2 linked regions of the Homo sapiens genome follow. The protein of the gene in region 2 purifies or fractionates together with the protein of the main gene of each other region. This does not show direct contact. Each region holds a gene or a part of one and is shown on either strand. Other genes may lie near its edges. The genes, in order: POMP and LRRC56.

What was found.
Region 1: the proteins of LRRC56 (region 2) and POMP purify together in Homo sapiens (affinity purification with mass spectrometry; one large-scale study listed by BioGRID and IntAct). This does not show direct contact.

The regions. Positions count from the first base shown.
Region 1 is NC_000013.11:28,665,625-28,669,438, reverse strand, and holds part of POMP (proteasome maturation protein), read right to left. Parts: intron 967-3,814; coding exon 865-966; intron 1-864. UniProt on the Homo sapiens protein: Molecular chaperone essential for the assembly of standard proteasomes and immunoproteasomes. Degraded after completion of proteasome maturation. Mediates the association of 20S preproteasome with the endoplasmic reticulum.
Region 2 is NC_000011.10:550,923-554,736, forward strand, and holds part of LRRC56 (leucine-rich repeat-containing protein 56), read left to right. Parts: intron 1-208; coding exon 209-380; intron 381-728; coding exon 729-905; intron 906-980; coding exon 981-1,045; intron 1,046-1,167; coding exon 1,168-1,310; intron 1,311-1,646; coding exon 1,647-1,780; intron 1,781-3,040; coding exon 3,041-3,354; 3' UTR 3,355-3,814. UniProt on the Homo sapiens protein: Required for the assembly of dynein arms.

The sequences.
Region 1 (3,814 bases), on a different chromosome or scaffold from region 2:
ATACCACTGCACTCCAGCCTGGATGACAGAATGAGATCCTGTATCAAAAAAATAAATACAAAGTAAAAACATAAAAGCCAAGGGAAAAAGGAAGAAGCCATTATTAGTGTCAAATACTACAGGGAGATGAAGTAAAGTGAAGGTAAAAATGTCCACATTGTTCAGGAGCAGTTTCATTGGTGTCATGGGAGACAGAAACAGTGGGTTAAATAAATAGCAGGGAAAGGAGTATAGAAAGCAAATGTAGACAACTTTTCAAGAAGCAAAAGCACACTCAATGAGAGACAAGTTACTATAAAGGAATTTGAAATTGATACAATTTTTTTTTGTTTTAAAAGACAACAGCGGTTCAAATGCTACTGCTGAGACAGAGCAAGCAGAGAGGGGTTAAAGATATCAGCTTGAGAAGGCATCATTGATAAAGGGATTTTCCTGAAGTAATGTAACAGGATAGAATCCAAAGCACAGGTAGGAGGGTGGTTCTTACATAATTGGAAGGACATTTTCCAAGTACTTATTCCTTAGAAACAGGTATATTCAACTATATACAAATTGTATACTTGACACCTCCACTTGGATATTCTTAGAGGGATCTCAAATTCAATGTAATACATAAAAAAAAAACCCAGAAAAACATGAAAGCAGATGCAGGTAAGTTTTCAGACACTGAGCCTGTAATTTGAAGTTTTCCATTTAATGACTTCTTTTTTCCCTCTATGAAGTAGAAATCAAGGTCATACCCTAAAAAGGGGGAGGGAAGTAGAATAGGTTGTAAGGTAGATAAGGTATAAATAGCTGTTATGAAAACAGAAGATTCCTCATGAATGATATCGACACATATGCAACAGAGATCCATCAACTCACCTGCTGCACTGCCTTGAATTCCATCTGTAATTTTAGCGGAGCAAATAGACCCTGAATGTTTCTCAGTGTGGAAAAATTCATTTTATCTTGGTTGAGCTGGAACTACAAAAGACAATGTAATTTTAAACATTACACTCAATACTCTGCTTTCAAAACAGTTAGCAGTGGCATATATATAACACAATAGTTAGATGAAGAATTTTAATATCCATACCTGTAATAAAAACTAAGTATTTTTACTAATTTTTTCTGACAAATTTTAGACCACATATGTCTATATTTCATTTAGCATGCAGGTGTACTTTTACCAGAGTAAAATTACTACCAAAATTCCAAATTTATAAAAGTAAAGGAATGTGTCTCCTATTCAAAAGTAGATTTACAAGACAATCATATTTTAGCGCTTTTGATTAAAAGTACTGCAAAACTAGCAAAGGTGTAATTTGAGATCCAGAAAATGTCACATCCACTGACAAAAATAGTTAATTTCTAAGTATGAAGGCATATATTTAAAAGGATTCAGCAAAAGAAATAATCTGACCACTAAATCATCCTGTTAATTAAACTATGTTTAAACTCCACTTATTTTTGGTACTTGCCTCAGGGGAAAAACAAACATCTCTCAAAAGTTTATTCAATTTGTATTGGGTACTAATCAGCAATTTTTCCTGGATCATACTTTCACTAAGTACTGATATTACATTTAGGGAACTTTGGCCATAACTTAATGTATTTCAGGCAAAATGAATCGACTTGACTCATGGATTCTAAAACAGTTTCCAAAAATGGCTCCTAAGGATAGTGAATGTAATATGCAAACAGACTGTTACAAAGATTTGTCTGAGCTAAGGTGATTATAATGAGGTAAAGTCATTTCTTGTCATTTTTTATTACACGCTACTCTCTTGATAACATTGTCTTCTAATAGTAATCAAAAAGGTCATTTTGAACAAAAATCTATTGAGAGATTAGCACCTACTTGGGATATGACTATGAAGTTTGAAAGTAAGGTGACTAACCAAATGCTTTTTAATTACTTTAGCTTTACACAGCAAATTTTGACAGATGGTCCTTAGGGAAAACCTGCAGTATTTTATTATGGGTATATGATCTGAAGTTCTAAGTGAAGGGTTTGCTTTAAATATTGGCTTATCCTCATGATAATACAATTTTATTCTAAGAGACGGGTCTTGCTATGTGGCTGGAGTGCAGTGGCTATTCACAGGCACGATTATAGAGCACTACAGCCTCGAATTACCAGGCTCAAGCAATCCCCCGCCTCAGCCTCCCACGCCGCTGGGACTACAGGCACACCCCACCACACCCAGCAGTAAATGTAATTTTATGTATAATAACTCAATTTATGTAAATTTTGATGAATACAGCCATCTTGTAATGTGATATTAATACTGTAATTATCAATCAACATGTAAGTTAGCAACCGTGTGCAAAATTAGGCTCTGTGGCAACACACAACAAAACTGAACAGCCTACCTTGGAGATTATAATCCAGTTTGGAAGACATTATGTATGTATCTCAACCCTCCGCACTACTGATTTCTTGGGCCAGATAATTCTTCACTGTGGCAGGCTGTCCTGTGTACTGTAGGATGTTTGGCAGCATCCCTGGCCTCTACCCCATAGATGCCAATATTACATCCCCCCATCCCCCACCGCACCACTTGTGACAACCTAAAATGTCCTCAGACTTTGCCAACTGTTCCCTTGTAGGGGGCAGGAGGATGATCCTCCCCTAGTTGAGAACCACTGGTACAAATGATGATGGCCATCTTCCATCACTATCACCACTGAAGCTCCCAATCATGCAGAGCTACTAGAGGCCAGCAATATGCCAAGGATGGGCTATTACTAACTCCAGATGAGAAGACTAAGGCTTAAAGAAAATTAAGCAATATGCCCCAAGTTTACTTAGCAAAGTGGGGTGCCCACATAGTTCAACTACACAATCCATGCTGAAGGATTTATAATAGACAGTAAGAGTCACATAAAGAGTGAGACTGCCATTAGCTGGCTAAATGATTAAAGAAGAAGAGATGCAGTAGATGTATGTAAGTCTCAAAAAGATCTCTGAAGTTTTTAGATTCTTCACAGTTCCACCTAGTCTCACTCAGATTTGTCAGTTTCTCTTAATATGTATTGCTTAGAACTAAACCAATATTCCAAATCTAATAGCCAGACTAATACACAGGAAAATAATATAATCTCCCTTGATTTGAGCCCCATCTTATTAACAAAGCCCAAGACTGCATTAACCTTTCTTTTTAGTAACTAACGTAATCTGCTGGCTTATAGTGAGTATACAGTCAATTAAAATAGTCAAGTTTTACAGAGCAAGTCACTTTACCCTGCCCAAAGGTGTAGAATTCATTTTTTGAATCCAAACGCAGAACTTCACACTCACCTCTATAAATGTTTTCCTTAAATTTTGGTCTAGACTTTGGTCTATTTTATCACCATGATATAGTTCAATTATTCAACAGAATGAACTATCCTTCTCAACCTTTTTTCCAAAAACCTAATATACATTCTTTCTTTGGTTGCCCACAAGTCCTTGAAAAATACTTATCCTTCCTATGTGTCCACCTGACTACCTAAGATGTAGACAGAGGCCAAAAAGCCCTATCAAAATATTCCCTCCAAATTGACTATTCCCTAATCACCGTTCTCTGGGTACAGTTACCAACCTCATATACTTTACCCTACACTACTTTCACTCGGTTAATAATCCACCATGTAATCCTCAATCTTATCCCTTGTCAGATAATTTGATCCCTTGACTGACCCATTTGGCAACTGAGTAAAAGAGTGAACTAAAATTAATTTGCTGAGTTCATTCAGATGCTGATGATCACTGCTTACCCTATTAAATGCTCACAGCTCACTCAATAGTCCACTTAAGAAACAGTTTCAGGGATCAATGTTACCACAG
Region 2 (3,814 bases):
ACATCCTGAGCAGGTGAGAGCCCAGTCCCTCAGTCCCTGGGGTGTGAGAGTGACCCAAGCCCACCCCTGCAGGGTAGGCAGCATCCCCACCTCTGGGCCCCTGCCCTGCCCCACGGTGGGTCTGGGAAAGGGAGCCAGGGAAAGAGCTGGCCGGAAGGAAACACTGGACCCAGACCTGCCCTCCCTCCCCCTCCCCCTCCCCCTGCAGGTGCCCAGGGGCTACAACTACAGGGCAGAGGTGAGGAAGCTCATTCCCCAGCTGCAGGTCCTGGACGAAGTGCCGGCCGCACACACAGGCCCACCGGCCCCCCCGCGGCTGAGCCAGGACTGGCTTGCGGTGAAGGAGGCCATCAAGAAGGGCAACGGCCTTCCCCCGCTGGGTACGGCAGCTGCGCCCGGAGGACCCACTGCTGAGCCCCAGCTCCCCCCAGGAAGAGGCCCCCACCCCAGGCTTCTCAGAAACGGATAGCCACATCTCATGCGCTTCTCCAGCCTTGACCCCGGTCCCCAGAGCTGTGCACACCCGGCCCCAGGCCAGGACACTGTCTCTGAGCAGCCCACAGAGGGAGAGGAAGGTCTGAAGATGAGGGCCTCTCTAGAAGGCTGCAGCGTGAGAGGCCAGCCTCAGGCCATGCAGCATGGGGATTGGGGCCCCTGGTCTGTGGACAGAGTCTGGGGGGCGCTCTCAGGCTGGGCCTTGGTGACCTCTGCTTCTGAACCTCGGGCAGACTGTCCCCGTGGAGCCCCCATCCGGAGACTTGACCCCGAGCTGTCCCTGCCTGAGACGCAGTCCCGGGCCTCCAGGCCCTGGCCCTTCTCCCTGCTGGTCCGTGGGGGCCCCCTGCCTGAAGGCCTGCTTTCTGAGGACCTGGCCCCAGAAGATAACACCAGCAGCCTCACCCATGGTAACTGACTTGCCTCAAAGCTGACCCTGCAGCCCCTCGGCCCCGAACCAGGCCCAGCCATGCTGTCTCTTGCAGGTGCTGGCCAAGTCCTCTGTGGGAACCCCACCAAGGGCCTGCGGGAGCGTAGGCACCAGTGCCAGGTACAGCCCACAGGGACCAGCCCCCCACGAGAACCAGTGTCCAGGGTTGCGGCCCTGACAGTGCCCTGCCCTGCCGCCATTCCAGGGCCAGAATCCCTAAAGCAGTCCCTTTTCCTCCCCAGGCCAGGGAGCCCCCCGAGCAGCTGCCCCAACACAGGCCAGGAGATCCGGCCGCCAGCACTTCCACCCCAGAGCCTGACCCTGCAGACAGCTCTGACTTCCTGGCCTTGGCTGGGCTCAGGGCCTGGAGGGAACATGGCGTGCGGTGGGTGTCCCTCCAGCTCTTCCACTGGGTGTGTCCTGTCCCGTGGGGAAATCAGGGCTGGGGCTACCTTGGCTGAGTCATCCCCAGTCCCAAGGCTCGTGGACCATCCCTGCATGTCCTGTCCCGTGGGGGGATCAGGGCTGGGGCTACCTTGGCTGAGTCATCGCTGGTCCCAAGGCTCGTGGACCATCCCTGTGTGTCCTGTCCCGTGGGGGGATCAGGGCTGGGGCTACCTTGGCTGAGTCATCCCCAGTCCCAAGGCTCATGGACCATCCCTATGTGTCCTGTCCCGTGGGGGGATCAGGGCTGGAGCTTCTCCTCCTCTCCCCACCCTAGCCCCCTCCCCTATAGGCACCCGGAGTCCCAACAGGAAGGGGCTGTAGCCCCCTGGGGCCCACGGAGGGTCCCTGAAGAGCAAGTGCACCAGGCAGAGCCCAAGACTCCCTCCAGCCCCCCAAGCCTGGCCTCAGGTACTGAGCCTGCCCGCCTGCCCCCCAGTGCCTGGGAGTGACCAACACCCCACTTCTATAGGGGGGCCCTTACCCCAGATCAGATGTGTCAACCTGGCCCTGCTTCCTCAGCCATGCTCTGAGAGGGACTGTAACAGGGAGGCCCCCTTCTGGGGGTGGGGGGCTCACGACCAAGGGAGGCCCAACCCAAGTCCTCTCCCAAGCCACGGTCCAATCCCTGTGACCTTGTGTGCCACCCGGGCTGGACGAAAGAGAGGCGTTCCACAAAAGGGGGTATGAACAGAGTCCAGAGGAGTCGGGACAGAAAGAAGGAGCCACCCCAGGGCACCAGCAGGCAGAACATGGCCACTGGGCAGCTTTCAGGGACACAGGCATGAGTCCGGGGGCTGGGAGGAAAGGCGGCCAGCAGCCCCACTGGGAGACCAAGGCAGGAGGGTGCTGCCGCTTCACCCTGAAGATGGCACGCGCACTTGGGGACATAGAATTAAGCCATGCAGTGCCCTTTACGAAGGACACTGACTTCAGTGTGATCACAGCTGCAAAGCAGAGAGGACCCTCCCTCAGCGGGCAGGCAGGCCGGGCAGGGGGCAGTGTAAGCAGGGGCGACCCCACGGTGGGCAGCTGACCCTCCTCTGTGCAGGAGCCTGGTTAAGGGGGCTGGGATGGGCAGGGAACAGGGCAGGCCAAGCCTCTGCTCTTCCATATGGTGGTGGGTGTCTGTGGAGGGGGCAGACAGAGGGGTCAACAGCTGGTTACCTAGTGGCCGTGACCTGCAGGGGTGGAGGGAGGGCAGGCAGGGCGGCCAGGAGGAGGGGAGCTGCAGTGGCCTCAGGGCAGGGTCAGGACAAAGGCATGCCAGGGCTCCAGACACCGGTGGAGGCGGGTGCTGGGGGACCCAAGGCTTGGGAACCGGCCCGGGGCGGTCAGCCAGTGAACAGGCTCTCAGGGTCAGGACACAGATGACCGAGGGTCAGAGCCAGGCCTTGTGGTCTCCTTCTCAGGGACAGGACACAGAGGACCCAGGGCCAGAACCAGGCTTCGTGGCCTCCTTGCCTGCCCCAGAGGTGGGCCCGCCCATGCGAGTCAGGGGTCACAGGGCTGGGAACACAGAAAGTGGGGTGCAGGGGTGCTGCTGCCTGTGGACCCCCAAGGACCACTGCCTCGGGGCTGCAGGGCCACGGGTGGGCTGTGGCCTCCCCACCGGGTGACTCCCTTCCCTGACAGCCTTTCTGACGTCCCATCACTCTGCTTGCTTTCTAGAGCCCTCCGGGACCTCGAGCCAGCACCTGGTCCCTTCACCTCCCAAGCACCCAAGGCCACGAGATTCTGGCAGCAGCTCCCCGCGGTGGTCGACAGACCTGCAGTCCAGGGGGCGTCGGCTCCGAGTCCTGGGCAGCTGGGGGCCTGGCCTGGGTGATGGGGTGGCTGCAGTGCCTGTCCTGAGAGCCCTGGAGGTGGCCTCACGCCTGAGCCCTCGAGCCCAGGGATGTCCTGGCCCAAAGCCAGCACCAGATGCAGCAGCTAGACCTCCCAGGGCAGCTGAACTCTCTCACCCCAGCCCCGTCCCCACTTAATATAGCCCCCACTGCCAGGCTTCCCTGTGCTGGGGCCACGACTTGCCCACATATGTGGTCACAGAGCACAGAATACCTGGGCGGGTGTGTTGGGGGGTGGAAGGAGTGCCTGGCCCTGGGGAGGACCCTCTTGGTGGAGGGGAGTGGGGGACTGGGACCAGCCAGGGAGGCAGCAGAGGCTGGAACCCAGTTTAGGCCCCCAACTGGGTTTGGCCTGGGGAGGGAGGGTCCGGCTCCCCAGCCCTTCCTTAGGGCCAGGCTTTCCCGCGGGCACGGGGGTGGGGGGTGGTCACCCGAGCAGGCCTGTGAGAGGCCTCTCCTGCTAGAATTGGGCATGGCCGAGGGGCAGGGGCTGGAGCTGCGAGTCCACCACTCCCTTGCCGGCCCCAGGGTAAGAGCCACCTCCTAGGCCGCAGTGGCCCAAGGTCCCAGCTGCTCGCCTGAGGCCGCCGGGGGTGCG